2 separate regions of the Homo sapiens genome follow, and region 1 is linked to region 2. The links come from fine-mapping of genetic effects on gene expression. A gene starts in region 2. The other region holds a variant in brackets. All regions are shown on one strand. Distances are from middle to middle. Region 1 holds the start of FXYD5 (FXYD domain containing ion transport regulator 5). Region 2 holds the start of ZNF30 (zinc finger protein 30).

The links. PIP is the estimated chance that this variant, and not a neighbour inherited with it, causes the effect.
Region 1: its variant is fine-mapped to the expression of ZNF30 in visceral fat (GTEx, PIP 0.98).

What each region holds. Positions count from the first base shown.
Region 1 is chr19:35,150,606-35,166,288 of GRCh38, forward strand. FXYD7 (FXYD domain containing ion transport regulator 7) reads left to right here. Exons shown (of 6, transcript NM_022006.2): 3 at 649-723; 4 at 835-877; 5 at 1,028-1,068; 6 at 3,289-3,697. The coding sequence ends at 3,311. FXYD5 (FXYD domain containing ion transport regulator 5) reads left to right here and starts at 4,130. Exons shown (of 9, transcript NM_014164.6): 1 at 4,130-4,204; 2 at 4,946-5,006; 3 at 6,816-6,896; 4 at 7,739-7,795; 5 at 10,104-10,196; 6 at 13,551-13,640; 7 at 15,537-15,566; 8 at 15,646-15,683. The coding sequence starts at 4,946. RefSeq lists a silencer at 499-898 and enhancers at 1,597-2,148, 3,098-3,962, 4,901-5,070. The variant G/A (reference allele first, on the strand shown) is at 7,827.
Region 2 is chr19:34,918,537-34,934,219 of GRCh38, forward strand. ZNF30 (zinc finger protein 30) reads left to right here and starts at 8,367. Exons shown (of 5, transcript NM_194325.3): 1 at 8,367-8,680; 2 at 11,348-11,420; 3 at 13,307-13,457; 4 at 15,092-15,187. The coding sequence starts at 11,412. It overlaps ZNF30-AS1 (ZNF30 antisense RNA 1), which reads right to left and starts at 8,290. Exons shown (of 3, transcript NR_110749.1): 1 at 8,193-8,290; 2 at 5,006-5,298; 3 at 4,479-4,515.

The DNA.
Region 1 (15,683 bases), 230 kb after region 2:
CAGGCTGCAGGAACAGCCAGTGCAAAGGCCTTGGGATAGGATCATGCTGGATATGCCCCAGGAACAGTGGGGAGGCCACTGTGGCTGGAGTAGGATTGATGGGGAGAGTGAGGTGGGGTGAGGTCCAAGAAGGAAAGGAACTGGATCATATGGGACTTTGAGGGCCCTAGTGAGGAATGTGGTTTCTACCTTGAGGGCAATGGGCGGGAGGAGGGCTCTGAGCAGAGGAGAAACCAGATCTGACTCAAATGTTGATGGGTCCTTGTGGCTATCAGAGGTGGGAGTGCAGGCAGGCCAGCAAGACCCTAGAGAAGGCTGCTGCAGAGGCCAGATGGGCGACAATGGTGGACAGAACCAGGGCCAGGGAGGAGGTGGTAGAGGGAGAGTATTATATATATATCCAGGGTGGAAAGCGCAGGGGGAGAGGGCAAGGGAGGAAAGTAGAGGGTACAGAGGGCAAGGGGAGCTAACGGTGCCCAAGCCCACACCCTACATCCTCACATCAACCCCCTGAAGGAGTGTCCAGCACAGTCCACAGCCTCCCTGGGCGATTCTGGGTTCCTGGCTGGGCCACCCAGAGCCAGGACTGGGCTCCAGGTGCAGCCAAGGTGCTGTCCCTGCCTCGATGTCCCCCATTATCTTCCCCAGACTACAACACGGTGCAGACTGTGGGCATGACTCTGGCAACCATCTTGTTCCTGCTGGGTATCCTCATCGTCATCAGTAAGTGCGACCCATTCCTGGGCTGCCTCAGCCTCCGCTTCCTCTGCTGGCTTTCATCCATATCCTACCCGCTATGTCCTGTCTTCTTGTTCTGTCTCTCTCTCCCAACAGGCAAGAAGGTGAAGTGCAGGAAGGCGGACTCCAGGTCTGAGAGGTCTGGCAGCAGTGGGCAAAGAGCGGGAGGGGGCCTCGGGGTGCCTCCCTAGCAGATGGGCAGGATCCACTGGGCCTGCCATGCGTTTTCCCCAAAGCCTATGGTTATTGAACCTCTTTCTACTTTTCTCTCTCATCTCTGCCTCCACAGCCCAACCTGCAAATCCTGTAAGTCTGAGCTTCCCTCTTCAGGTGAGGGTGAGAAACTGTGTGGTTCTGGGAGAGTTTTAGGTGGGGCAGGGAAGGGAACCCTCAGAAGGGAAGTCGCGGGGATGGACTGGACGCAGGGGGCGGAGGGGGGGTGGTGCCTGCAGATATCACAGGACAATTCCCTAGGAAGCTGAGGAAATTCCGCAGATGAAAGATGCTAAACCTGGCTGGGCGCGGTGGCTCATGCCTGTAATTCCAACACTTTGGGAGGCTGAGGCAGGCAGATCACCTGAGGTCAGGAGATCGAGATCAGCCCGGCCAACATGGTGAAACACCGTCTCTGCTAAAAATGCAAAAATTAGCCGGGCATGGTGGTGCGCACCTGTAATCCCAGCTACTCAGGAGGCTGAGGCAAGAGAATCACCTGAACCTGGGAGGTGGAGGTTGCAATGAGCTGAGGTTGTGCCACTCCACTCCAGCCTGGGTGATAGAGTGAGACTGTCAAAAAAAAAAAAAAAAAAAAAGAGGAAGGAAGAAATGAAGGAAGGAAGGGAGGGAGGGAGGGAAAAGAAAGATGATGCTAAACCGTGGGGAGGCTGTGGGATGTGACATGTCCCAGAGTCCACAGAGATTCCCAGAAACAAATGCTCAAGCCTATAAAAGCCAGGACAAGCTGATTTGCCAGGAGAGGAAGACACAGGCCTGTGAAGAGAAGGGCCCCATGTGGGAGGAGCTCTGTCAATCAGGAGGGAGAGAGAGGGAGCACTGAGGAAGACGGGGAGAGGCTTTCCAGACTTGATCGTTCAGCCAGGCAGATCCAGGATGAAATAGCCGAGGAAGCGGGACAGAGGGAGGGAGGGAAGGTTTCTGAATAGTTGCATCAAAATAACAAAAAGAGAGATGAATAGAATGCAGATTTTAGAATTCACATTGGAAAAGAACATATGGGATGCAGGGAATGTGAGGATGGAGAAGAAAGCTGGGAAGAACAGGAGGGGAGAGAGTGGAGAGGACGGAGGTGTTGGGGAGAATGTGGGAAGGAGGAGCCCAGGAAGGAAGGGGAGGAGGATGGGAGGAGGAGGGCGTGGAGGGTGGAGGAGGGAGAATGGGTGTAAGCATGGAAAGTGTAAAGGGAGAGCGAGAGGGATGCAGGGCAAGCATGTCAACGAAAGACTGATCTCTTTGAGGCTGTTAATTTTAATTATGTAAAAATAACTTGACCTGTTTTTAGTGGAAATGCAGCCTTTCTGGAGACTTGTAAAAGAACAGAAATGGGAATTTCTGTGTCTCTTATAAAGTTCTTATAACTAAAAAAAAAAAAAAAAAAAAAAAAAATGCGGGAGGGGGACACGGGTTATTCAATGGTTGAGAAGTATTTGGTGTGGAATTTGTTTCACGTTCCTTTTTTTTTTTTTTTTTTTTTTTTTTTTTGAGACAGAGTCTTGCTGTGTCCTCTGTTGCCCAGGCTGGAGTGCAGTGGCACGATCTCAGCTTATTACAACACTGCAACCTCTGCGTCCTGGGTTCAAGCGATTCTCCTGCCTCAGCCTCCCAAATAGCTGGGACTACAGGCACACACCACCACACCCGGCTAATTTTTATATCTTTAGCAGAGATGGTGGTTCACCATTTTGGCCAGGCTGGTCTCAAACTCCTGACCTCAAACGATCCGCCATCCTCGGCCTCCCAAAGTGCTTGGATTACAGGCGTGAGCCACAGCGCTTGGCCTGTTTCATGTTTATTTAATGAGTTTTAAAACATGAACAAGGCACTTATGGATGCGTGGGGCAGCATGGGGGTTGGCCTTGTCACCTGGGGCACAGCTGAAGACTTTGCACAGGTTTCTGGTCTATCCTAGGTGAATGATGGTCTGCAGCGGGTGGGGAATGGGGGACTTCCCGTTGTATCCAAATGTTCAGGACAGGGAGTGTAGGAAAGGAGTGAGGGTGTAGGAGGAGATTGCAAATGGGAAGGGAGATGGGGACTCCCTTTCTGGCAGGCGGATAGCCCCAAAAGCCCAGGTTGGGTCTGGGGTCGCCAGCCCCGTAGCAGGTGTTTCTCTCCATGACAGCAGCCAGGAGGTGTCCCCAAGGGAACAAGACATTAGAGTGTGGGAGGCAAGACAGCTCCTCAGTGTTAGCTCTGGGGTGACAGTCCCTGGGGTCTGGCTTCCATGGTGCCGGGGAATGGAGAGCCAACGAGCTGTGGGGAGGGAGGCAGTTTCCACCTTTCTAGTGGCTCACGCACCCCCTCTCTCCCCAGCCCCTGGTGGCGGCGGCGTGTAACACCTTCCCGAGGAAACTCCGCTGCCGACCCTGCCTGAGCGCGGGAGCCTGAGGACCGGGTGGAGGCGGTGGGGACCCAGCCGCGCGCCGGGAGCGCTCCCCGGAATGAGCCGCCCCACCCACCCCAAGGCTGGAGCCGCTGCACCCTGCTGTCCCTCTCCAGGCCTTGGCAATGACGATCCCCCAAAGAGCCCGTCTGCACCCCAGACCCAGGGCCTCAGGCCTCCAGCTCCTGGGATCCGGGAGTCCATCCCGGCCCAGCACCCCCAGCATCCCCGTGTATGGCCCCCCTGCACCTCCTTGTCTCATCCCCGAAGATCCGTCCCCCTGGCCCCTCAGTGTCCATGTCTTGAGCTTAATAAATGTGCATTTGGTTTTTTCCTCTGTTCTGTCTGTGTGTTCTCATCTGTGGGGCACGGTGTGGGTAGGGGTGCAGAACTGAACCTGGGGTAGCTCTCCCCTGCGTGCCCGGAGTCGCCCCCTCTTCATTCTCCTCCCCCAGTGCCCCGAGATGCCCCCCTTCAATCCCTTCTCCTTCCTCAACACCTCCGGATTTGTCCTTTCCCTTCCTCCAGCGACCCCAGAATAGAGCCCTCCCGTTTCTCCCCCTGCTCTCTCAGAGGCGTCCACTCACCCTAGACCTGCCTGCCCCATCCCCGTTCCCACCCTCTCCCACCACTATGCCCTCACCCCTGCCCCCCGTCGCCCTCAGCGATTCCCCCTCCTGCTCCCACCCCGGGCTCTGAAGCCAGGAAACCCAAGAGGAAATGACTGAGCCCGTCTGGGTCCCCGCCCGCTCGCGCTCCCCTGGCCACACCCTCCGCCTGGACGCAGCAGCCACCGCCGCGTCCCTCTCTCCACGAGGCTGCCGGCTTAGGACCCCCAGCTCCGACGTAAGTCCCTCTCGTGCGCCACCTCCATCCGCTGCCCCTCTGCCCACGGGCCGGGCTCAGGTGGGTAGGGGTTTGACCCCTTCCGCTCCTCTCCGCCCCCCATCCACGCCCACATCTCTCTGCCTCCTCTCCTGGGCTACAGTGGGCCGCTCTGCCTCGCTCCCGCCCGCCTGCCTCAGTCTCCCCAGCTCTCTGCCACCCCCCTCGGACCAGTGCCTCTTAGGTCTCTCCAGCGCGCCATCCCTGCAAGGCGGCCCCTGACACCAACTCACTTTTTCCTCTGAGCGCGGGAGGCGTTACTCACTCTTCCTCCTTCCCCTCCTCGCCGACTCCCGGGCTCTGGGCCCCTGGGGGAGGGAAGAGGCCTCCTATCTACTCCTCTGCCCCAGTCCCCTCCTTGCGTCAGTCCCAGTGAGGGATAAGCGCCTGGCGGAAGGCGCAGGGAGGTGTTTCTCTGCTTCAGGAGTGCCCGCCGGCCCTTGCAGCTGCTGGAAGACCCATTTATCTCATGCTTCTTGTTTTCTTTGGGGACCTGCAGGGGAAGGAAGCAGGGTGACGGTTTGGTATCCCCACCTAAGACCCTCCCCTTTCCCCTGAGGCCAGCCGTCAGCCCCTGGCAGGGGGTCTTGGAAGCCAGAGGTTTTTGCTCAGGGCAGGGAAAGGGCTGCAGGATCCCCGGGGGCTGCCGGAGGTCGGTCTCACTGACATCATGGCTGACCCCAGCATCGCCTGGTCCCACAGATGTCGCCCTCTGGTCGCCTGTGTCTTCTCACCATCGTTGGCCTGATTCTCCCCACCAGAGGTAAGACCCATCTCTGGCCTCCACCCTGCCCCAGAGCCCCCAGCCAGGCCAGCCCCACGTGTGCTGCGGGGTGGGTGGTTGGCCCGTGTGAACGTTGTCCTGCCCTGTCACCCTCCCGCTGAGCCGGCACCAGGAAGTGGGGATCCCTATGGCGGGGCGACGTTACACCCTCTTTGGACACCTCAGACCCGGGTGGCTGCTTCCAGTGAGTCTGGCCAGGGCCTGTCCTGCTGAGCATCCTCCAATTTCACCTCCAAGAAGAACTCACTGAGTTTCATTTGGCGGGGAGATTGGTGTCGGTTTTCTACTCAGCAGCCAGGAAACCTAGGCTCCCAGAGTCCCCAGGCATTACACAGTTAGGCAAAGCTGTTGAGCTGGGGTTAGTCCAAAGAGTTGGCAACATCTCAGCCTTGCCTGGAAAGTGTCTCCTGAAAGATGGGAACCACAGGGGGGTATTGATCGTTCTTTCTGTGTGGCAGGTGTGGTGTGTGTTAGGTCAGTTAGGCTTTGCCTCTGACAGTCAGTCACACCTGTTGTCTTGCCCATTTTACTGATGAGGAAACTGAGGCTCAGCGAAGGGAAGTGCCCTGTGTCAGAGGAGAATGGGTGGAGGAGCTGAGAAAACAACTGTCCTGCCTGCCCCCAGAACCCAGGGTGCATGCCCCACTGAAGGCGCCCTCATTTCTCCTTCATAAAATGATTTTCATATACTCGTTCAGTCATTTGACAAATATTTATTGAGCACCTACTATGTGCTAGATATTCTGTGCACTGGGGAAACAGCACTGAATAAAACAAGAGGTCACACTCTAGTGGAGAGAGACAAGTTAGTAAATTATATCGTGTGCTAGGAGGTGATACGTGCTTGCAGAAAAGTAGAGGTAATGAGGATTGTTTAAACTGGGTGGTCAGGGAGGGCCTCACTGAGGAGGTGACATTTGGACCAACAAACACTTGGAGGAAATGAGGGAATGAGCTTTGCAGGTGTCTGGGGGCTGAGTGTTGTCTGGTGTGTTTTAAGAATAGCAGGCAGGTGGGGTGGCTGGGTTGGGATGAGAAGGGGCAGAGTGGGATGACGAGAGGACAGAGAAGTGATGGGACCAGATGGAGGAGGACTTACGGGCCACGTGAGGGCTTTGCTTTTATGTGGAGTGAAGTGCAGCCAGGGCAGGGCTCTGAACCAGGCGGGCCCCGACCTGACTCAGGTGGTCCCAGGCTCCCTCTGGCTGCAGGTTGGAACAGACTGTGGGGGCGGAGACAGGAGCAGGGAGCCCAAGAAGGAGGCTGCTGGGATGTCCAGGCTGGAGGGTACAGAGGCAGGACCAGGATGGGGGCAGTGGAGTTATCCAGCACTGACCACATGGTAAGCCGTGTGGGAGACCCTTTCCCTGCTCTGTGTCATTTCACCCTATCTACAGCCCTGTGAAGTAGATTCAGTTATTATCCCTGCTTTGCAGATGAAGCAACTGAGGCTCAGAGAAAGGACTTCACTTGTTCCAGGTCACACAGCAAGAAAGTTGTTGGGGGCAGGATTTGAAACCAGGGCCCAGGCTCACCCTAGCACCTGGGCTCACTAGACTAAACTGACTTTCCCATCCCACAGGGATGGGCGGGGAGGGGGACTAGAAGAAGGGTTCCCAGGCATTGGCATAGCTGAAAACACTTTCAGAATTATGGATTGATGCAGCCAAAGCTGAGTGATTCCACCAGCAGACAGGACCCCTAAGGTTTCACCAGGGAGGCGAGGGCGGGGGTGGTGAGAGGAGGGGGACCAGGCTCCCTCCTGACTTCTCATCCTTGATTCCCCAGGACAGACGTTGAAAGATACCACGTCCAGTTCTTCAGCAGACTCAACTATCATGGACATTCAGGTCCCGACACGAGCCCCAGGTGAGGAAAGGGACACATCTATCAAGATCCTGTCATTGCAAATAACAACAGCAACAAAAATCCCAAACTTGGACCAAACAAGGGAATTTATGGATTTATGTAACGAAAAAGTCCAGGTACAGACCTTCAGGCATGGCTTGATCTAGGTGCTCAAATGATGCTATCAGAACCTCTCTCCACCTCTTGGTTCTGTTTTCTCTGTGTTGGCTTCATTTTCAGGAAGAGTCTCCTCTCATGGGGCCAAGATGATCCCTTGAAGCCTGGGGCTGTCATCCTGTCTGCTAAGAATCCCAGCAAGAGAATTTCCTTTCCCCAGTCCAGCAAATGTCCCAGAACTGAGTTATCTTTGGCCAGGCTCAGGTCGTATCCCTGAGCTGGCCACTGTGGCCACAGGCATAGAAAGCTGATTGGCCAGGCCTGGGTTCCATGTCCAACCTCCACCAGGGCTGGTGTCAGCCCCGCTGAATAAAGTGGACCAAGAGTCAGGGAAGGATGGTCCCTAAAGGAAGTTCTGGGGGCTTTTATCAGAGCAGGTGCATTTGGGAAGCTGAGTTAAACATGTTTTTTTAGGCAGCACTTCTCAGAGTCTTGAGAAAGACAATTTGCAGCCAGCATCTCGAAGAAGGAGCTGTAGTGTGGCATCTGTGGGACGTAAGGTCCCAAAGAAGGGGACATATTGGTTACACATTTCGGCAGTTAGCAAATGGCTGGATTAATTAAGCCATTTCTATTACATTAAAGTTGAGTTGCTACGGGAATCTCTGGCATCTCCACCCATAGACCTTGCCCACTTCTTTTTCTCTCTCCTTTTCTCTCCGTGACTCCTTGTTTCTGGACTCCAGATGCAGTCTACACAGAACTCCAGCCCACCTCTCCAACCCCAACCTGGCCTGCTGATGGTGAGTAGTGCAGGGGCAGGCGGCGGGGACA[G/A]GACCAAGACAAACAAAGTTTCCCCTCTTCCTCTGACACTATAGGTCTTTGGTTGCCCATTTCAGTCCCTACTCCCAGCTCTGAATGCCCTGGTTTACTCTGGGTGGGGACAGCCAACTCCATTCAATTCTTTAGAAAAAGAAAACCAAAACGCTTTTGAAATTGTGAAATTAACATGCATATAGAAAAATACAAAACCCATAAATTTACAGTGTAATAACTTACTCTAAATTGAATCCCTATGTAACTACCAACCGGGTCAAGGAGCAGAACTTTGCAAACACCCCCAGAAAGTCTCTGTGTGCCAGTCCCATTTATTTCTTCCTTTCATCTCTTTTTTCTCTGATCCCTTTTTTGAATTTTTTGAACAATTTTTGGACGTTTTCTTGAAGTATAATTCAAAAAGTGCTCCCGGCCAGGCACAGTGGCTCATGCCTATAATCCCAGCACTTTGAGAGGCCAAGGTGGATGGATCACTTGAGCTCAGGAGTTCTAGACCAGCCTGGGCAACACAGTGAGACTCCATCTCTACAGAAAAATACAAAAATTAGCCGAGTGCGTTGGCGTGCTCCTGTAGTCCCAGCTACTCGAAAGGCTGAGGCAGGAGAATCACTTAAGCCCAGAGGCAGAGGTTGCAGTGAGCCAAGATCTTGCCACTGCACTCCAGCCTGGGCAACAGAGCGAAACCCTGTCTCAAAAAAAAAAAAAAGTGCTCCCTGATTTTTTCAATCGATGTTTAAAGACACAGTAGTACAAAAACACATTCTGCCTGGAAAGAATAAAATGATTGTAGGCAAAACTAAACCCCTTTGTCACCTCCCCTCCCCAATCCTCGTTCTCTCCCTCTGTCTCTGAGAGGTCCCCACTGTCAGCATTGGGGTAGGTCCCCAGTGATACCACATCCCATGTATATTACTTGGAGAAAATGCACTGACTGTGTGCTGTGTTTGTGTGAGCTTAAGGAGACCTTATGATTGTTCTGCAGCTTGCTTTGTTTCTTCGTGCAGTCGTATGTTTGGAAGTTCTTCTCACATCACTGCATAAAGACTTGTTTTGTTTTCTCTCCTGCCTGGTATTCCACAAGGCGCCTATATCACAGCTTATGGAGTCACACACTTCTTGATGAACATGTTGGCTGTTTCCAGCTTTTTCTGTCTACACACAGCACCACAATGAGCAACTTTGTCCCTTCCTCCTTGAGCAAACGCACTTGGAATATGTACTGACTATGTGCTGGTCATGGTTCTAAATATTTTGCGTATGTTAACTCATTCAACCTTCACGCAAACCCTAAGAGGCAGAAATTACCATTGTCCCCATTTTACAGACAAGGAAACAGAGGCTGTGAGTAACTGGTTCAAGGTCTCACAACAAGTCAGGGACGCAGCTGGAATCGAAGTCCAGGAATCTGGCACCAGAGCCTGTGCTTTTATCCAAGACAATACAGGGCAAAGGACATGCATGCTTAATGTTTTAAAATTTGCCCTCCTGCCGCCCAGGCACAGTGGCTCATGCCTGTCATCCCAGCACTTTTGGAGGCTGAGGCGGGTGGATCGCTTGAGCCCAGGAATTTGAGACCAGCCTGGACAACACAGCAAAACCTATTCTCTACAAAAAGTACAAAATGATTAGCTGGGCATGGTGGCATGTGCCTGTAGTCCCAGCTACCTGGGAGGCTAAGGCGGGAGAATCACTTGAGCCCAAGAGTTCAAGGCTACAGTGAGCTATGATTGCACCACTGCACTCCAGCTCAGGTGATAGAGTGAGACCCTGTCTCAAAAATAAATAAAAGTAAAAATAAAAGTTCCCCTCCCAAGTGACTGTACCCATTTCCTAACCCACCAGCAGTGTGCAGGAGTGTCCCCCTTCCCAACCCTACAGTGACACTTGGTATACTGACATTTTCAGGTTTTGCCAGCCTCTTAGGTTTTTTCTGAGATGGAGTTTTGCTCTTGTTGCCCAGGTCGCTGTGCAATGGTGCAATCTCGGCTCACCACAACCTCTGCCTCCCAGGTTCAAGCAATTCTCCCTCAGCCTCCCGAGTAGCTGAGATTAGAGGCATGAGCGACCACGCCCAGCTAATTTTGTATTTTTAGTAGAGACAGGGTTTCTCCATGTTGGTCAGGCTGGTCTCGAACTCCCGACCTAAGGTAATCTGCCCGCCTCGGCCTCCCAAAGTGCTGGGAATACAGACATAAGCCACCGCGCCCGGCCCCAATTCTCTTTCCCCAGTGACTCTTTCTTATCCTTCCCTCCTTGCTCTCCTGACCTGAATAGAAACACCACAACCCCAGACCCAGACCCAGCAACTGGAAGGAACGGATGGGCCTCTAGTGACAGATCCAGAGACACACAAGAGCACCAAAGCAGGTATAGCATGGGACTGAGAGCAGCAGCCTACGATTTTTGTTTAATTCTCTATCTAGGTCAACATTTCCCTCAGTACGTTTCTCAGTGCCCCTGTTTGGGGAATTGTTAATACATTTAAAAAAAATGTTTTTGGTTTGTGGTCAAAGTTATTTGGGGAACCCTGAGTTAAAGTTAACCATGTTTCTTTGTGGCAGGACTTCTGAGAGTCTTCATTAAGCTAATTTTCAGCAAAGGATCCCCAAGGGGCAGCGTGCAGTATGCAGTGTTTCCCTAACTGATAGACTTTGGAACTTTCTTTCTGTCAGTTCCCCTCGGAGGGCTGGGGCTATAGAATGTGCCTGTGGATATTTCTTTTTTGTACATCTCCTTAATGTTAGAGCAGGAGCTTTTCAGTTGCAAAATATAGAAAATTCACCTTAAACACACACACACACACACACACACACAAAAGAATGATTGGCTATATAAGTTCTGGAAAGTCCAGAAGTAGCCAACTTCAGGCATAGCTGGATCAAGGCGAGTAAGCACTGTCATGAGTGCTTTGTTCCCTCTCTTGGTTCTGTTGTCTTCATTCTCTACTAACTTCTCCCCTCTTGATGGCAGAGATGGTCCCATAGTTCTAACTTTAGGTCACATACGTGGTGGCTAGAGAACAAAATCTTTCCCATTATTTCTAGCCTGAGGCCTAGAATTGACTCTCATTGGTTCAGCTGGAGTCACATGCTCATGTCTGAACCAATGAGAGCCTGAGAAATGAGCTGCTCTCATTGGTCAGGCCTGAGTCTTGTGCCCCACCCTGGGGCTAGAGAAGAGGCTCAGCCAGCCATGCCTGAACCACATAGACCAAGAGTCAGGGAAGAGGGGATTTTCCTTTGGACAAGTGAGTTAGTATTACCAGAAGGTGTGGGAAAGGAGACTGAGCTGAGATAAGGCAACAGATCGCCTCTAATGCCTGCGTGATGATCCTTATTTGAGGGGCAGCCCCACACTGGAAAGTGTTGTAGAGTAGGCCACTCCCAGAGAGACATGTACAGTTGTGCAGACTGGGTACTGAACGAGAGCACCACCTCTCGGGCAATGCCATTCCCTTTGTCGGTCTTTATAATTGTTCCAGTTTTCTAGTGATAGCAGCAAAGCATCTCATTCTTACAGAATCTATCTATTAAAACAATCCTACAATGGATGGAAATAAAGTGCTTTACAGAAGGGAACTTTTCTAGTTTGTACAAAAGTGCACCTGTAGGGGTGGGGGATAGCAGCTGTGTCCACACTTATCAATGATAAAGCATTCTCACATCACTGCATTAATTTACTGAGTCTTTGCTGACCTGAGTTGCTCTATGTATTGGTCCATGTTCCTGGATATATGTGACAGAAATTCATCAAGGACAAATGGCTGTCACTGCTGAGCCTCTGGGTTGCCTAGAGGCTGGGCATGAAAGCCCCCAGGGCCTCTCTTCCTCCTCTATCTTTGCTTCTCTTCCACCTAGGAAGGAAATGGCTCATGTTATTTGAGCCTCCTAGCTCAAAACTTCCAGACTTCACCTAGGGTTTTAATCTGCTCAGGTTACGATAACAAAATACCACAGACTGGATGGCTTAAACAATAGGAATTCATTTCTCCCGGTTCTGGAGATGGGAAGTCCAAGATCAAGGTGCCAGAAGGGTTGGTGTCTGTCGAGGGCTCCCCTTGGGTCACAGACAGCCATTCTCTTGCTCTGTCTTCACCATGTCCTCTCCATGTGTGGGTGGGCTTGTGAGCTTGAAAGCAAGCTCTCTGGTGTCTTCTTATAAGGGCACTAATCCCATCATGAGGGCCCCACCCTCATGATCCTATCTAACCCTAATTACCTCCCAAAGGCCCTCGCTCCAAAATACCATCACATGGAATTTGGTGGGGTGGATAGAATTCAGTCTATAGTACCTAGCTGTCACTCAATATCCCTACTTGGGATTTCAAAGGTCTCAGGGAAGGACCAGACTGAGGTCACAAGCTTCCTTTTGTAGCCTGGGTTATAACTGGGGAAGGGAGGGCAATGTCTTCCCACAAAGAAAGGGAGAGCTGTTCCAGAAGGAGGAAGAGTGCTGAGCAGACAGTAATAGCAATGGCTGACTTTTGCTGAGAGCTTGTTCATGCTGGGCACTGTGCTAAGCTTCTGTGTATTCAGTCATTTGATGCTTGTGATCATCCTGTGTGGTGGGAACTGTCATTACTCCCATTTTACAGGAAAAGGAACTGAGGCCCAGAGAGGTTACTCAGCTTGCCCTAGGCAATACAGCCAAGAGTGGCAGAACCGGAATTTGAGTCCAGACTGTCTCACCCCAGGGTGCATGAGCACCACACACCAGTATGGCTGTCCTTCGCATTCCTGTGGTCTCTGCCGTGGATCTGGCTTATACCTTCCTCTGGGCAATGCATTCCCTGAATATCTTGTAATCCTTGGTTGCCAGTTCCTATTTAGGGTGTGGGGCACTGAGATAATTCCAGGGAACTTGGGTTTCACGAGGGAGCTTCTCTGTCTGCTGGCTTCTTGTTGAGGCCTCCGATGTGGTGTGGGGGCACTTCTCAGTGCTTGGGGGAGGCCTTTTCTTTGGAGGTACTGATTTTTTTTTTTTTTTCAAGAGAAGAATCCTTTGGTATTTTCGGTCTGGGGGCAGAGGTGATATTCAGAATAGTTTTGTTGTTGTTGTTGTTTTTGAGACAGAGTGTTGCTCTGTTGCCCAGACTGGAGTGCAGTGGCGAAATCTTGGCTCACTGCAATCTCCACCTCCCGAGTTCAGGCAATTCTCCTGCCTCAGCCTCCCAAGTATCTGGGATTACAGGTGTGTGCCACCAGGCCCAGTTAATTTTTGTATTTTTAGTAGAGGCGGGGTTTCACCATGTTGGCCAGACTGGTCTTGAGCTCTTGGCTTCAGGTGATCTGCCCGCCTCAGTCTCCCAAAGTGCTGGGGTTTACAGACATGAGCCACTGCACCCAGCCAATATTCAGAATGTTTTACAAGTTTCTCCAGACTATGTAGCTGGGTCAGAGTCCTTGGCAGGTGTTGCCCTTTCGTTCCTTTATCTCCTGGATTATAGTGTGGGCCAGAAGGTCCTAGGAGAGGGGTCTGGAGTCCCTCGGGGATTGAGGCAGATCAGATAGTCGCAACCGGGGCTATGTGCTTATTTCAGCATTTCAATGCCTGTCATTACTTATTGCCTCTAGGTGTGGAGTAGGGGGGATGCCTGACCCTGCACACCAGCTGTGTAGATGTGGGAGAGGGGTTTCTTCCAGATGCAGACTCTCAGTAATATCCCTTGTTTCTGCCTCCATGGCTCACTCCTGCCCTCCACTGATCTGGCCACTCTCTCAGCTCATCCCACTGATGACACCACGACGCTCTCTGAGAGACCATCCCCAAGCACAGACGTCCAGACAGACCCCCAGACCCTCAAGCCATCTGGTTAGTAACTGCCTCCCCAGACTGGAAACAGGCTATTTTCTGTTCACTGTGTATTTCCAGCACCTGGAGTACAGCCCAGCACAGAATAGTTCTCAGTAAAGACGTGATGGGAAAGTAAATGACTTCAAGCCAGGCAGAGGGTGGGCACATGATAAATGTCTGAATAGATAAGTGAATGCATAAATTATTGCTGCATACAAACCACCTAAAAACTCAGTGGCTTAAAAGGATAACCATTTATTTAGCTCTCATTTCTGCAATTTGGAAATCTAGGGTGTGCTCAGCTGGCTGGTTCTTCTGGTTTCAGCTGGACTTACTCATGCGTCTGAGGTCAGTTGTGGGTCAGCAAGGACCTCTGTTTCTAGGGGCAATTTGATTCTTTCCCTGGTGATCTTATCCACCACTTCCTGCCCAGTCAGCCCCCCAGTGAATGAATGGAAATGATACGCCCATGGGTCACATAGAGAGCCCATTCATCCATTCATTCAACAAATAGTCACTGAGTACTTGTGTGCTAGGCTAGTTCTAGGGGACAGAGATAGAGTGGTGAACAAGCCAGAAAAAATCTCTGCCCTCATGGAACTACTATTCTAGTGGTAAGAGAAACACAACAAGAAATAATCATAATTATGTATCAGTTGATTTCAACTTGCTATCAAGAAAAGTAAAGTAGGGTTAGAGAGTGACTGGGGAGTACAGGTTGAGTATTCCTTATCCAAAATGCTTTGGACCAGGAGACTTTCAGATTTCAGATTTTAGAATATTTGCATTATACTTACCAGTTCAACTTTCCTGACCCAAAAATCTGAAGTCCAAAATGTTCCAGTGGGCATTTCCTTTCGGTGTCATGTCAGACTGTTACTGGAAAGGGGTTCCGATCCAGACCCCAAGAAAGGGCTGTTGGATCTTGCACAAAAAAAGAATTCAGAGAGTCCATAGAGTTTATTTAGAAAGTAAAGGAATAAAGAATGGCTACTCTATAGGCAGAGCAGCCCCACAGGCTGCTGGTTGCCTGTTTTTATGGTTGTTTCTTCGTTATATGCTAAACAAGGGGTGGATTATTCATGAGTTTTCTGGGAAAGGGGTGGGCAATTCCCAGAACTGAGGATTCCTCCCCTTTTTATACTGTATAGGGTAACTTCCTGATGTTGCCATGGCATTTGAAACTGTCATGGTGCTGGTAGGAGTGCCTTTTAGCATGCTAATGTATTATAACTAATGTATAATGAGCTGTGAGGATGACCAGAGGTCACTGTCATTGCCATCTTGGTTTTGGTGGGTTTTAACTGGCTTCTTTACTGCAACCTGTTTTATCAGCAAGGCCTTTATGACCTGTATCTCGTGCCGACCTCCTATCTCATCCTGTGACTAACAATGTCTAACCTCTGGGGAATACAGCCCAGTAGGTCTCAGCCTTATTTTACCCTATTCGAGATGGAGTTGCTCTGGTTCAAACACCCCTGACATGACATCAAAAAGTGTCAGATTTGGGGACATTTTGGATTTTGGATTTGGGGATTAGGGATAGTCAACCTGTATTTCATATACAAAACCAGGGAGGGCCCCACTGGGAAGGGAGTGAAGGAGGGAGCCATGCGGATGTCTAGGGAAAGTGTGTTCCAGGCAGAGGAAACAGCCAGTGCAAAGGCCCTGAGGTGAGAAGGTGTCTGCATGTTCAACAGCAGGGAGGCCAGTAGGGCTGGAGTGCAGGGAGTGAGGGGGATAGGAAGGAAATGAGATTAGAGGAATAATGGGAGCCAGATTGTGTGCCATGGTGAAGATTTTGGGTTTTGTTCTAAGGGTACCCAGGTATCCCCCTTTCCTGACTTTGCCATTCACGTATTCACTTCACAAACCTTTGCTGAACCCTGACTTGCTCTTTGTCTGCCTCTCCAGGTTTTCATGAGGATGACCCCTTCTTCTATGGTAAGTTATCCACAGGAAGATGTGGGGGAAGGAAAGGTGAGGTCCGTCTGACTCTACCCCTTCATTTTTCTCTCTGCAGATGAACACACCCTCCGGAAACGGGGGCTGTTGGTCGCA
Region 2 (15,683 bases):
CCAAAGTATCTTTGAAAAACCCCAGCCTCCAAATTTCAGGGAGATTGATGAGTAATAACTCCATGTCCCTCGTGGCATGGCCAGCCTCTCATCAAACTTTTTCTTTACTGCAAAGCCATGGTCTCAGTGGATTGATTTTTTCTGTGCAGTGGGCAGGAAGAACCGATCAGGTGAATATATATATATATATATATATATATATATATATATATATATATATATATAAAATAACACAACAGGAATCCCACAGGTACTGAGTTCTTTTTTTTTTTTTTTTGAGACAGAGTTTCACTCTTGTCATCCAGGCTGGAGTGCAGTGGTATGATCTCGGCTCACTGCAACCTCTGCCTCCCAGGTTCAAGCAATTCTCCTGCCTCAGCCTCCCAAGTAGCTGGGATTACAGGCATGTGCCACCATGCCTGGCTAATTTTGTATTTTTAGTAGGGATGGGGTTTCACCATGTTGGCCAGGCTGGTCTTGAACTCCTGCCCTCAGGTGATCTGCCAGTCTCAGCCTCCCAAAATGCTGGGATTACAGGCATGAGCTACCGCACCCAGCCAGGGTTCTCAAAGCTCTCTCTCCACACTTCTAGCTTCCCTTTATCCTTTGAAGGTGCTTTGCCCCAACAATTCCCTTGTAAGTCTTATCCTATTGTTGTATCTTCTCTTCAGGGGACACCTGCACTGACAGAACATGTTATATGTTGGTTTGGGGCAAAATATGATTGCTAGTTGTCATGCTTACACATAATTTGCTGTCACCATATGAACTGGAGAAAACTCCTTCCCTATACCTTTAAAATGCTTGTCCACTTCCACTTGGAAACTGAATGGCACCAATGCCAGGCTAGTGGTTTTAGAAAGTGGCTCTCCAGATCTAAAATGTTTTCATGGATAAACCCCCTGTGTCCTTGTATTCCCCTACTAGCTTTTTAAACTCTTCTGATTTCCACCAAATAGAAGTTGCATATGGAAATATGCAGTTAGATGGGCCACCTGACTCCAATTGCAGCCCTCAGTCCACCATCTGAAAAAGCTCAGGAGATCTCAGAATTCTCCTAGTCTAAACTGACCCTTTTATTATAATTATTTTTTCTTGAGATAGGGTCTCACTCTGTCACCCAGGCTGTTAGATCAATGCTTCAAAACATAGCTTCCTCTGAATCTGCAGTACAAAAGATGTTCTGCTATGTCTATTTCTGATAGCCTCTTCCTATACTGATACTTTCTTTACTAGCATATATAGATTGCTTGCTTTAACAATTCAACCGAATATTTGATAACATCAAATTAATTTAACTCTATCACAGGTTGGGTTTGCAGGCAAGCAGACATTGAGATGGAGGTTATCACACAGGGCAATTATTTGGAATGGCTCTTGGCCTCAGTACCTGGGGAAGGTGGAGGAAGTAAACAGGATTGGGCAGAGGGAGTAGACATGTTATGCATTCACAACAAAGGCCTCAGCCAATCCCACAGGAAGCTCTGTATCTGTAAAAGACCTTCAATGTGGTCCCAAGTTGGGAGGGAACCCTAGCTTTTATGCTGTCACATTAACTAGTCAATGAATGTGGGCATCCTCCTGCCAAAAGGGCATTGTTCTGACCACTTCTTCATGGAACATCTTCCTGTGTCTCCAAATTGTGGGGAAAAGAAAGAGAGATCAGACTGTTACTGTGTCTATGTAGAAAGAAGTAGACATAAGAGACTCCATTTTGTTCTGTACTAAGAAAAACCGTTCTGCCTTGAGATGCTGTTAATCTGTAACCCTACCCCCAACCCTGTGCTTGCAGAGACATGTGCTATGTTGACTCAAGGTTTAATGGATTTAGGGCTATGCAGGATGTGCTTTGTTAAACAAGTGCCTGAAGGCAGTATGCTTGTTAAAAGTCATCACCACTCTCTAATCTCAAGTACCCAGGGACACAATACACTGCGAAAGGCCACAGGGACCTCTGCCTAGGAAAGCCAGGTATTGTCCAAAGTTTCTCCCCATGTGATAGTCTGAGATATGGCCTCGTGGGAAGGGAAAGACCTGACCATCCCCCAGCCCAACACCCGTAAAGGGTCTGTGCTGAGGAGGATTAGTAAAAGAGGAAGGCCTCTTTGCAGTTAAGATAAGAGGAAGGCACCTGTCTCCTGCTCGTCCCTGGGCAATGGAATGTGTCAGTGTAAAACCCGATTGTATGTTCCATCTACTGAGATAGGAGAAAACCGCCTTAAGGCTGGAGGTGAGACATGCTGGCGGCAATACTGCTCTTTAATGCACCAGATATGTTTATGTATGTGCACATCAAAGCACAGCACCTTTTCTAACCTTGTTTAGGACACAGAGACATTTGTTCACATGTTTTCCTGCTCACCCTTTCCCCACTATTACCTTATTGTCCTGCCACATTCCCCTCTCCAAGATGGTAGAGATAATGATCAATAAATACTGAGGGAACTCAGAGACTGGTGCCGGCACGGGTCCTCCCTATGCTGAGCGCCGGTCCCCTGGGCCCACTTTTCTTTCTCTATACTTTGTCTCTGTGTCTCTTTCTTTTCTCAGTCTCTTGTCCCACCCGATGAGAAACACCCACACCCAGCTTTAAAATTTCTCCTTTTGTACTCTTTCCCTTTATTTCTCAGACCGGCCAACACTTAGGGAAAATAGAAAAGAACCTACGTGAAATATCGGGCTGAATTTCCCCCGATACAAATCACTTATTCCCTCGCCTCCTTTAAATATTTGCTTAAGTATCATTTCCCTATGAGAGCAACCCTACCCCCTCCATTCCCTACTGGAGTCCCTCCTACTCCACAGGCTTCTCATCACTGGGTTCTGCTCCTCCTGTTTCCTTTCCTATTGCACTTTTCACCTTATAAGTCACTACGTAACTTATAACATAAGTTTTTTTTTTTTTTTTTTTTTAATTGATCATTCTTGCTTGTTTCTCATAGAGGGGGATTTGGCAGGGTCACAGGACAATAGTGGAGGGAAGGTCAGCAGACAAACAAGTGAACAAAGGTCTCTGGTTTTCCTAGGCAGAGGACCCTGCGGCCTTCCGCAGTGTTTGTGTCCCTGGGTACTTGAGATTAGGGAGTGGTGATGACTCTTAACAAGCATGCTGCCTTCAAGCATCTGTTTAACAAAGCACATCTTGCACTGCCCTTAATCCATTCAACCCTGAGTGGACACAGCACATGTTTCAGAGAGCACAGGGTTGGGGGTAAGGTCACAGATCAACAGGATCCCAAGGCAGAAGAATTTCTCTTAGTACAGAACAAAATGAAAAGTCTCCCATATCTACGTCTTTCTACACAGACACGGCAACCATCCGATTTCTCAATCTTTTCCCCACCTTTCCCCTCTCTCTATTCCACAAAACCGCCATTGTCATCATGGCCCGTTCTCAGTGAGCTGTTGGGTACACCTCCCAGACGGGGTGGTGGCCGGGCAGAGGAGCTCCTTACTTCCCAGTAGGGGCGGCCGGGCAGAGGCGCCCCTCACCTCCCGGATGGGGCGGCTGGCCGGGCAGGGGGCTGACCCCCCCACCTCCCTCCCGGACGGGGCGGCTGGCCGGGCGGGGGACTGACCCCCCCCACCTCCCTCCCGGACGGGGTGGCTGCCAGGCGGAGACGCTCCTCACTTCCCAGACGGGGTGGCTGCCGGGCGGAGGGGCTCCTCACTTCTCAGACGGGGCGGCTGCCGGGCGGAGGGGCTCCTCACTTTTCAGACGGGGCGGTTGCCAGGCAGAGGGTCTCCTCACTTCTCAGACGGGGCGGCCGGGCAGAGACGCTCCTCACATCCCGGACGGGGCGGCAGGGCAGAGGCGCTCCCCACATCTCAGACGATGGGCAGCCGGGCAGAGACACTCCTCACTTCCTAGATGGGATGGCGGCCGGGAAGAGGCGCTCCTCACTTCCTAGATGGGATGGCGGCCGGGCAGAGACGCTCCTCACTTTCCAGACTGGGCAGCCGGGCAGAGGGGCTCCTCACATCCCAGATGATGGGCGGCCGGGCAGAGGGGCTCCTCACATCCCAGACGATGGGCGGCCAGGCAGAGACGCTCCTCACTTCCCAGACGGGGTGGCGGCCGGGCAGAGGCTGCAATCTCGGCACTTTGGGAGGCCAAGGCAGGTGGCTGGGAGGTGGAGGTTGTAGCGAGCCGAGATCACGCCACTGCACTCCAGCCTGGGCACCATTGAGCACTGAGTGAACGAGACTCCGTCTGCAATCCCGGCACCTCGGGAGGCCGAGGCTGGCGGATCACTCGCGGTTAGGAGCTGGAGACCAGCCCAGCCAACACAGCGAAACCCCGTCTCCACCAAAAAAATACGAAAACCAGTCAGGCATGGCGGCACGCACCTGCAATCGCAGGCACTCGGCAGGCTGAGGCAGGAGAATCAGGCAGGGAGGTTGCAGTGAGCCGAGATGGCAGCAGTACAGTCCAGCTTCGGCTCGGCATCAGAGGGAGACCGTGGAAAGAGAGGGAGAGGGAGACGGGAGAGGGAGAGGGAGACCTTCTGAGGACTGTCAACATAAGTTATAACATAACATATATAACATAACTTGTTATGTTATATTGTATATAACATAACTTATAACATAACTTATAGCATAAGTTACATATATGTAACATAGGTTACATAACTTATAACACCTTATAAGTCACTATGTAACTTATAACATTTCCTTTATTATTTATTGTCTGCTTCTCTCAATTCAAATTAAGGTAGATAAATTTCTTTGTTCACACATCTAGAAATGCATCTGCAACAGGGCGGGTGCTCAGTTAGTATTTGTTAAAACACACAGGAACCATGGCTTTACACCTGTTTACTCTCTCTAAATCAACCCTCAATGATTCCTTTCCCTCCACATTTATGATTGTTCAATGTTATCAGGAAGAGAAATAAATCATAATTTGAAGAAACAAAAATTTAATGGTAGCCACAATTATAGTAGAACCATTACCTCAACTGAATTCCTCACATCTCAGAACTCAGGATTCTGTACTTACCTCCCACTGGGACGTATCTTTTCCAGGCATCACAGATAATTTTCTTCTCCAGCTATCTTATGATTCTTTTTGTATAATTTCATTAATCAACATTAACAGCCTTCTAGGAATTGCTCACTTCACAAATGTTTTTTGGAGGTAATCTCAGTTCCCTATGAAGACTCTGTCTCTGCACTTCCAGATGAGAGGAAAATCACTCCCAGAAAGAGATGAGACAATGGAATCCCAAGCCTTTATCTCAGCGTTCGGATGACCTCTCTTGACAAATGCACAAGATAATACAACTGCGGCCACTATCCTAGTTGGAAACACAATTTGGTAAGTGGTTATTCTTTTCAGATAAACGTATGGAACTTAGACGAAATATATTTCAGGAAATGCAGTGAGAAACATTATAAGGGGGAAAGTTCTGCTCTCCTAGATTAGAACATCACTGACAGTGGCCAGAGAAAGTTTCCTGAGGGATCAGGGACTGTCATTTTCCACTGGATGCTCAGATTCCAGCTGTAGGGTTTGTGAGTATCCTTCCTCCCTCTTCCATGAGACAGCCTCATCTGAAATCTCCAATTTACCTCTGACGATTAAACACCTAGACCCTCACTATAGTCACACAAGTCTTCACTCAAAACACAAGGGCATAGCAGTAAGATTGCGATCCTTAGCTGTCATCTATGGAGTGATCACTTTTGAGGGGCACTTTTTGAATAAATCATTTCAAAATCATTTCAAAAATTTTCTCAAAAAAAAAACCCTATGATTTAAAAATTTCTTTGACATTCTAAGTATTCTACTAATCTATTTTATTTCTACCCACCATGGAACCCACATTTCCCTCTGCAAAATACAAATTTCTATTGTATTCACCCCTCACCCCTGAACATAAATTTATCCTCCCAAACAAATTTCTGCCCAGATGACATTTTGACGGCTATTTACACATCCCCATCTCAGAGAGCACATTGTACATAATTTGGCCCTTAATGCAGCCTCTATGAAAAGTCCTTTAATCAGGGGACTAGATGAGTCCTTATTTGTCTTGAATGTCTCTAGTTCCTCCAGGACAGAAGTGATCAGTGACCACAGCCAGTTCAGGAATCACAGGATATTGCAAATTTGTCTCCGATTGACATGAATTGGGTGGATTCTCACTCCAGGTCTATCACCTTCTTATTTGTTAATGAAATATTTGTCTTCAGACATTGTAATAGATACCCAATGAGTTTCAGAGGGTTTGAAAATGAACACTTTAGACATGAATAGCCTATATGGTGAACTTACAGAGGCAAAGCGACTGGTCAACAAACAGCTGCTCTACCAAAAAAGCCTGGAGTTACAAAGCAGATGAACATTTTTGCAGAGCTGGAAACTAATTCCAATAAGGCTAAAAACTTGCTACTGCTGGTAGGGAAAATCCTAACTATTGACAGTCAAATGCTTTTGATGCGAGGCTACTTAGGTTGATGTTGATAAGAGAAAAGTTCCCTTGTCCCCCTGGCAGGGCGTGCGATGGGGGTGTGGCTCGCTTCTTCAGTGTCCCGCTGCTCAAACCTCCAGGGGAGTATACAGACGGGCGGGCTGTGGGGCTCTGACCCCATGGCAGTGTCTAGGGGTGAATGTTTATAGCTGAAGCCCCAGTGGGCGTGTTACAGGATGCTCTTTAGCTGTCCGCAGGCGGCTTATGTTAGTCAATTCAATTAGATCCCTGCGTTATCGCAAGGACAGAGGGCTTTCATATCCCGGGGTTCCTGTCTTGGTGTACCAGAAGAATCAGATCACACATGGGCTTGGAGGATGACTGCAGGGTTTTGAGTGGAAGTAGCTCTCAACAGTTGGGGGAGCCAGAAGGGAAATGGTTTTCCCCTGGAATCGGGCTGCTCCGCAGCACCGGCTCTCCTTGGACTGCCCCAGCCAAACTCCGCGTCCTTCTGGTGGGTGGCCTGCCCGCGTGCCAGCGTCTGTCATGTCTTCTTCCGCCAACATGTTCCTCTGGATGTCCAGCGGCTTGTGTGTCTGCTTGCTAGGGTCTCAGAGTATTTATAGGGACAGGATGGGGGCGGGAACAGGATGGGGGCGTGGCAGGCCAGGGTGGTCTTGGGAAACGCAACATTTGGGCAGGAAAACAAAAATGCCTGCCCTCACCTAGGTCAGTTGGCACAGGGCCAGGGGTGGAGCCCTAGCCAGGGACCACACCCTCCTGTACCCAGCACCTCCCTTTCCCCCTTCCATATCATTTAAAGGGACCCCGCCCTTCCCTCCCCAGCACTCCCCTTCCCCACCTCCTTATCAATGTCATCACCCTGGACTGACTCCAGGAATCACTGTAATGTGGGCTTAATAAGAACAGAGCTCGGCTGGCCGCGGTGGCTCACCCTGTCATCCCAGCACTTTGGGAGGCTGAGGCGGGTGGATCGCTTGAGCCCAGGAGTTCGAGACTAGCCTGGGCAAGATGGCAAAACCCCATTTCTACAAAAAATATACAAAAATTAGCCAGGTGTAGTGGCGCGCCCCTGTAGTCTCAGCTACTCTGGAGGCCGAGGTGGGAGAATCACTTGAACCTGGGAGGCAGAGGTTACAGTAAGCCGAGATAGCGCCACTGCATTCCAGTCTGAGCGACAGAGGGAGACCCTGTCTCAAAACAAAACAAAAACAAAACAAACAAAAAGCGGAGCTGACAGTCAAGGTGAATTTCACGTTTGCCTGTATTCAGTTTTAGCATTACATAAACCAAAAGAAGAATGCCATAAAGGCTACAGGCAGCTAATACAGAGAGGTGTTACTGGAAAAGGAACCAGAAAGAGTAAATATCTCCTAAACGTATGATGGGACAGAAAGATAAATGCCTATTACATATAGTTAATATCTGTTTGATTAGCCTTATTTACATTCTCCTTTTAAAAGGTCTTACATTTAGCATCTTAGATAGAACCCACAAAATTTAAATATTTAATAGAAACTTAAAATTCCTGTATCAGAGGACAGAAATATATTTTTCTCACACGTGATTAGTCTAATTGCCACTATTAATCCTATTAATATTCTGTTAAATAATAGCATTTCTGTAGCGAAAAGCAAACAGTACGGAAAGATAATTTCAAACACCTAGTTTTCATATTTTTGTGTTAAAGTAATAACATATTTTGGTATAGATTATCATTTTTTGTTTGTTTTTGTTTTTGCTTTTTCTGACCTGGTGTGTTAATGCCCTGGGTTGGCCCTCTAAGAAGCTGGCCACCTACTTCGGGCCTCAGGTGTCAGACGCCCCAGCTTCGAGGTCTATGGCTCCCAGCAACTCGAGCGCCTGCGCCTGCGCATTCTCAGCCGGACGGGAGCGCCCAGAAGTCTCCGGGCGCCGGTGGGCGGCCTTGTGGACTGCGCCGGGCATGCTCGGCGGTGTGACGGCTCAGGACTGCATTTCCCAGAGGCTGCAGCTATCCGGCCAATGTAGCCTGAAACTACATTTCTCAGCGGCCACTGGAACGACCTCAATCTCTGCCTCCTCGCCAGTTCATTGTGGTCGTTGACCCGGCAGCGAGCTTTGGAGTTCATCGAGGGAGAAGTCAGCGCCCAGCTCCGAGGTTGGAGCAGCCCCGCCGGGCAACTTGAATTTCTGCAAACGAACACAGCACCGGGAGCTCTGCAGACCTGTGTCGGCGCGGAACCCGGACTGAGACATGCGTGAGCGTTGGGTGGACCGGGCGAGGATCCCGGGCCGGCGAGTGCGGGAGCGGCAGGGCAGGGAGGGTGCGTCGGCCGGGGCCGGTGTGCATCCGCGAAGACTGGGTGCATGGCCTCCATGCGAACCTGAGCTATTAATATTTGTTACTATTTTGGATAAAATCACTGTAATTGATTTATGTAAAGGAGCAAAAGACTCTTCAACTCTCAGTTTAAAAAGGAAACGATAGTTATGATACCTTTTGCATGCAGCGGGAAGAAATGGGATTGCCAGGAAGCCTCTTCTTGTTTGGAAAAAACTGTATAAAGTATTTACACCTTTTAAAGATGAGAGCAATGTCATCTGAAAATTATCAGTGCAGGGAAAAGGACTTCAAAGGATCTGTTGTGCAGATTACTTAACTAATGACAAAATTATGTAAGAAAGGAGAGCAAGATGACAGCTGTAAACATTTCCATCAATCTCCATATTGCACAGAAATAGGACCCAGCTTTTTCTTAAGGTTCTTCAATTTTGCATTATCCCACAGCAGTAGCTCTCTCTCTCTAGCTGCTAGGGGACAGAGGAAATTGAAATGTCAGAGAATCTTTTCTGTTGGTTTTTTATTTGTTTGTTTTTAAAGAAGAGTTGCTCTTAATTTTTTAGTTAGAATTAAAAGAAAGCATGCCAGAGAAACTTACGTTTTAAGTAAAAAGTGGAAACAGGTCGGGTGCCATGGCTCATGCCTGTAATCCCAGCACTTTGGGAAGCTGAGGCGGGTGGATTGCCTGAGCTCAGGAGTTCGAGACCACCAACATGGCAACATGGTGAAACCCCGTCTCTACTAAAAATATAAAAATTAGCCAGGCATGGTGGCGTGCGCTTGTAGTCACAGCTACTTGAGAGGCGGAGGTGGGAGAAGTGCTTGAAGCTGGGAGGCGGCGGAGGTTGCAGTGAGTGGAGATGGCACCACCGCAATCCAGCCTGGGCGACAGAGCGAGATCCCTTCTCTAAAAAAAAAAAAATATATATATATATATATATATATATATATATATAGATAGATAGATAGATAGATACATAAATTAAATTAAGTGGAAACAAGTGTTTAATTAAAATGAAATAAAGGATGTATAATGTTTACGTAATAACTCCAATGCAGTAGTGCCCCCTTAATCGGCAGTTTCACTTTCTTCACTTTGTTACCCTCAGTCAACCATGATCTGAAAATAGGTGATTTTGGTACAATAAGATATTTTGAGAGAGAGGGGCCATGTTCACATAACTTTTATTACAGTATGCTATTATAGTTGTTCTATTTTATTATTAGTTATTGCTATTACTCAATTATGGTGGCCGGGTGCGGTGGCTCACGCCTGTAATCCCAGCACTTTGGGATACTGAGATGGGTGGATCAATTGAGGTCAGGAGTTCGAGACCAGCCTGGCCAACATGGTGAAACCCTGTCTCTAGTAAAAATACAAAAATTAGCCAGGCGTGGTGGTGGGCACCTGTAATCCCAGCTACTTGGGAGGCTCCCAGGAGGTGGAGGTTGCAGTGAGCCAAGATCACACCACTGCACTCCAGCCTGGGCAACAGAGTGAGACCCTGTCTCAAACAAACAAACAAACAGAAAAATAAAAATCTCTTATGGTGCCTAATTTATAAATTAAACTTAATCATAGGTGTGTATGTATAAGAAAAAACATAGTATATATGGGGTTCCGTCAGACATCTACTGAGGATCTTAGAGTGTATCTCCCCCCTGTGGATAAGAGGGAGCTACCATAGTAAGAGCTAACTCGGCTGCGCGCGGTGGCTCACGCCTGTAATCCCAGCACTTTGGGAGGCTGAGGCGGGCGGATCACGAAGTCAGGAGATGGAGACCATCCTGGCCAACATGGTGAAATTCCGTCTCTACTAAAAATACAAAACTTAGCTGGGCGTGACTATGCGCCTGTAGTCCTAGCTACTCGGGAGGGAGGCAGAGGCAGGAGAATCACTTGAATCTGGGTGGCGTAGGTTGCCGTGAGCCAAGATGGCGCCACTGCACTCACTCCAGCCTGGGTGACAGGGCGAGACTCCGTCTCAAAAAATAAAACAAAACAAAACAAAACAAAAGAGCCAACTCATGTTAAGCAAGTATTCTATTAACTTTTGGGGTGGGTTTTCTTATTCTTCAGGACAACCACATGTTGGAGCTGATACTCCTATTACTATTTTAGTGATGAGAAAACTGAGCCATATTAGTAACTGCCTGATCATTTTCTCCTATGTTCTCTACCTCCCGTGTCTTGACCAACCTCAGATTTATACTGTCACCATTAAAGAAGCTCTGGATTGGGTGATATGGACTCTTTCTTAGGCTTAGAACGTGGGAATGGAGTGAGGAGAATCTGTTCAAGAGAAGACTGTGCAACCCAATTTGAGACCTAGATCAACATTCCCAAAATGGGGGCCTGGTGGGAAAGCTTGTGTCTGATTCTGCCTTCCTTAAGAAGTGCCACACCTCTGCGATCAACTCTGTACAGCTTAGTTAACTGGGGCTTGAATTCCACTGTTCTCCAAATTTTGTTTGAGGGTGTTTGTAGCACAGTTTGGAAGCTGAAATGAAGGGACAGGAAGGTTTATTAATGTATGTCATTGAGAACACTAAAGCCTCCTTTTCTCCTCTCTGGATTTTCTAGCTTTTGAACTTCTCAGATAGAGGAACCCCAGTGAAGACTGATCAGTTCTTACAATTCTCAAAGCATGGCCCATGTAAGTTGGTGTTTCTTCTTGAAATATGGGGATTTTTATATTACGTGGCTATTTTCCTTAATTGACCTGAAGCATTCTTCATCAGAATGTACCATCTAATTGCCTACTTGATTCCTTCTGTTTGGCGGAATGATGTCAAAGTATCGTTTCCTCCTTACGAGGTCCTCATTTCTAATCGGTGTTCATGAATTCATTGAGCAAGTTACGAAGCAGGTAAATAGTAAGTCTTAGCTGAAAGGCTGTGATAGAGCAGTGGAGGATTGAAGTCCCGTGGCAGAAGTATTTGAGCTTCCTACATCCATCTGTGGTTTGATGAGTTTGATCTGTTGGCTTCATCTGGCCACACATCAGAAGATTTGAAGTTTTCCACAGAGCTGATAAGATGGAATTTTGTATTGATTGGTCTCAATATGATGAGATAACATGCTCTATGAGGCTTTTAAGATTGAGTGGGGATGTGATTATGATGTGAAACATTGATATCATGGTTCTTCTTGGGATGCCTGAGAGTGATACTAAGGTCAATTTTGTTATGGAATGGGACCTGCCAGACTTGGACAACATGCATTTGGTTCTGAGTCATTTTCACCCTAATCCACTAACTCAAGAACAGCCAAATGGCCAGGTGCAGTGGCTCACACCTGTAAACCCAGGACCTTGGGAGCCCCAGGTGGGAGGATCACTTGAGCCCAGGAGTTCAAGACCAGCCTGGGCAGCATGGCAAGACCCTGTCTCTACCAAAAAAAATTTTTTTTAATTAGCCAGGCATGGGGGCACATGCCTGTAGTCCTAACTACTTGGGACCCTCAGACAGAAGGACACTTGGAGCCCAGGAGTTCAAGATTGCAGTGAGCTATGGTCATAGCACTGCACTACAGACTGGGCAACACAGTGAGACTGTGTCTCAAAAAAAAATTTAAAAAAACAGCAGCCAAAGTATTAAGTGAAGGATCTTGTATGACACTATCAGCATATTGTTATCAGTAGTAGATGAACAGATTACCAGAACTGGGGAAAACTGAGGCATTTGTTACAGTCTTCGTTTATAAGTATAAAATCATTACTTTTTTTTTTCTTTTTTTCTTTTTTTTTTTTTTTTGAGACTGAGTCTCGCTCTGTCACCCAGGCTAGAGTACAGTGGCACAATTTTGACTCACTGCAACCTCCACCTCCTGGATTCAAGTGATTCTGCTGCCTCAGCTTCCCAAGTAGCTGGGATTACAGGCACATGCCACAACGCCCAGCTAATTTTTGTATTTTTAGTAGAGATGAGTTTCACCGCATAGGCCAGGCTGGTCTCGAACTCCTGACCTCGTGTGATCCACCCACCTCAGCCTCGCAAAGTTACTAACCTTTAATACAGATCCACAAGATAACTTTTATGTCACTTTGGAAAAAAGTATTTATTAATATAAGGAAAAACACTTATGATCTGACATAATGAACTTGAAGCTTGAGGAGTTATTCAACAAATTTGTGTCATGGCTATTTTCTAAGACAGATTTTATTCTACAGTTGGAGAAAGGAATCATAGCTATTTTCTTCTTAAAGGGAAAGTAATATAGAGACTAATTGTTTTTGAGAATTTGTTTCATTGGATACCTAGCAGGCCATATCTTTGTATGTACTCTTTTACTTAACAGGGAAACTAGGATTCTTTTATCCATTTCACCACAAATCTGGAGTATTATGATAATCCTACAATATATAGGACATTTTGTCCATAGCAGCAGGATTCTTCCAGAACATGCAGATACCATGCTCATCCACTTGCCACATCATAAGCTTCCAGCCTATGTGATTGTTATGTTATTGCTCCCTTACTACACTGAAACGTTTTATTCCCTCTCCTTTCACCTTGAAAGCATTTTCTTTGATTTTACCAGAAATATGTGGGTTTGCAGTATCACGGATCAGTGACATTTGAGGATGTGGCCATAGCCTTCTCCCAGCAGGAGTGGGAGAGTCTGGACTCTTCCCAGAGGGGCTTGTACAGAGATGTGATGTTGGAGAACTACAGGAACTTGGTGTCAATGGGTAAGTGTACTTCTCTCAAATAATTGAGAATCTGCTCCCTGTTATACTTTCTCCTTTGCAGATTTTAGGGCTAGCTTAAGAACTGAACACGATTTCTTCTTGTTGCCAGAGAAATGATTTGAGCTTTGTTAGGTTGGAAATGATCCAGTGGCAGGATTAGAATTCTGGATTGTCTATTGCAAAACATTGACAAAAGAGGCCAGGTTTTCTATTATGTTTTTGCTCTAAATTGCTCTAAATGCTCTGTGAAAATCTGACCCACCTTGCAGGCAGAACAGCTAGACAAAGGGTCTTGATTTGTTCTATCTGAAGACCTATACAACTTATATGCCGGCGGATTGGATAAACAAATCATTTAAAACTGAAGTTACCTCATTTTATTTCATATAAAATAATCTGATTTTGTGGTTAAAATTCATCATCTCTGAACTTTGCATTTAAGAGTAAATGCAAATTAAATCTATATCCTATAGATATAGATGTCTAAGCAGACTTTGTTTTTGTCTTAGCAAAATAACAATAATAATGTTATTAACACACAGCGTGCTTACTGTGTGCTGTTTCACTGTTCTCTGCTCTTTATATTAATATACATTTGTATTAACTGATTTTTAACCTTACAAGCACTCTATAGGTGCTAACCATTTTAGGTGAGAATGCTAAATAAAGCACAGTGTGTTTAAGTGAGTTACGCAAGATCACACAGCCCATAGGTGACGGTAGCAGAAACTTGAACCCAGGCACTTAGGTTCCACAATCCGCGTTCTCAATCACAATGTCATACTTTCTTTTTTTTTTTTTTTTTGAGACATAGTCTCACTCTGTTGCCCAGGCTGGAGTGCAGTGTAATGATCTCAGCTCAGCGCAACCTCCACCTCCCAGGTTCAAGTGATTCTCCTGCCTCAGCCTCCCTAGTAGCTGGGATTATAAGCGTACACCACCACACCCAGCTAATTTTTGTATTTTTGATAGAAACAGGGTTTCACCATGTTGACCAGGCTGGTCTCGAACTCCTGACCTCAAGTAATCTGCCCACCTGGCCTCCAAAAGTGCTGGGATTACAAGCATGAGCCACCGGGCCTGGTTTTTTATCAAGACACAAAGAATAAATGAGTATACACTTATCTATATTTATAATAGTTAGATAGATAGATAGATTTCATTTAAAATAAAACCTTTCGGCTGGGTGTGGTGGTTCATGCCTGTAATCCCAGCACTTTGGGAGGCCAAGGTGGGCGGATCACGAGGTCAAGATATCGAGACCATCCTGGCCAACATGGTGACATCCGTCTCTACTAAAAATACAAAAATTAGCTGGGCGTGGTGGCACATGCCTATAGTCCCAGCTACTCGGGAGGCTGAGGTGGGAGAATTGCTTGAACCCGGGAAGCGGAGGTTGCAGTGAGCTGAGATCGCACACTGCACTGCAGCCTGGCGACAGAGTGAGACTCTGTCTCTACATAAATAAAACCGTTCTCTACCTGTCTGGAATTATGAATCCCCTTGCCCTTCTCGTGTCTGAGATATAAAGGTCAATATCGTTTGACCTTTCATTTATGGCAAATTTAACCAAAGCTGGAAGTATTTTTGAACTCATATTTTATTTCTTTTCTACATTCTTATCTCATAAGCAGGACATTCCCGTTCTAAACCACATGTGATCGCCTTATTGGAACAATGGAAAGAGCCTGAAGTGACAGTGAGGAAAGATGGAAGAAGATGGTGCACAGGTGAGTAAGAGCATGGCAGGTAGGGAGGCCATTGTTGCTGGAAACAGCCCAGCTGTCAGGGAGGAAGTGCATCTCTGCAATGTTTGGAGGTTTCCCTTCAAAGCCCTAGGGCCTGGGTGGAAAAAGGCTGAGACTTGGGTAAGAAATAAATATCTCACCAGCCTCACAAAAGGAACTTCATCTTTACTTATTTTAATACTCACTCACCTCTTGTTTCCCTCTCATTTTATTACGGACTTAAGTCACTTTCCCAGTGCATTATTCCATCTGTGTATTGAATTTCACTTCTTTCACCTCCTCTTTTACATTTGGATTTATTCATATATTCTTAGACAGTAATAGTTGAACAGAGACAGGAAAAATGAGGGTTCAGGCCTTGTAATTATGTAAGACATGCCAAGCAGAGGGAATAGCAGATGTGGATGCTTTGGGTGGGAATGAGTTTTGTGTGCTTCAGGAGCAGTAAGTAGGCTCAGGCAGAATTAATGGGAGGAGT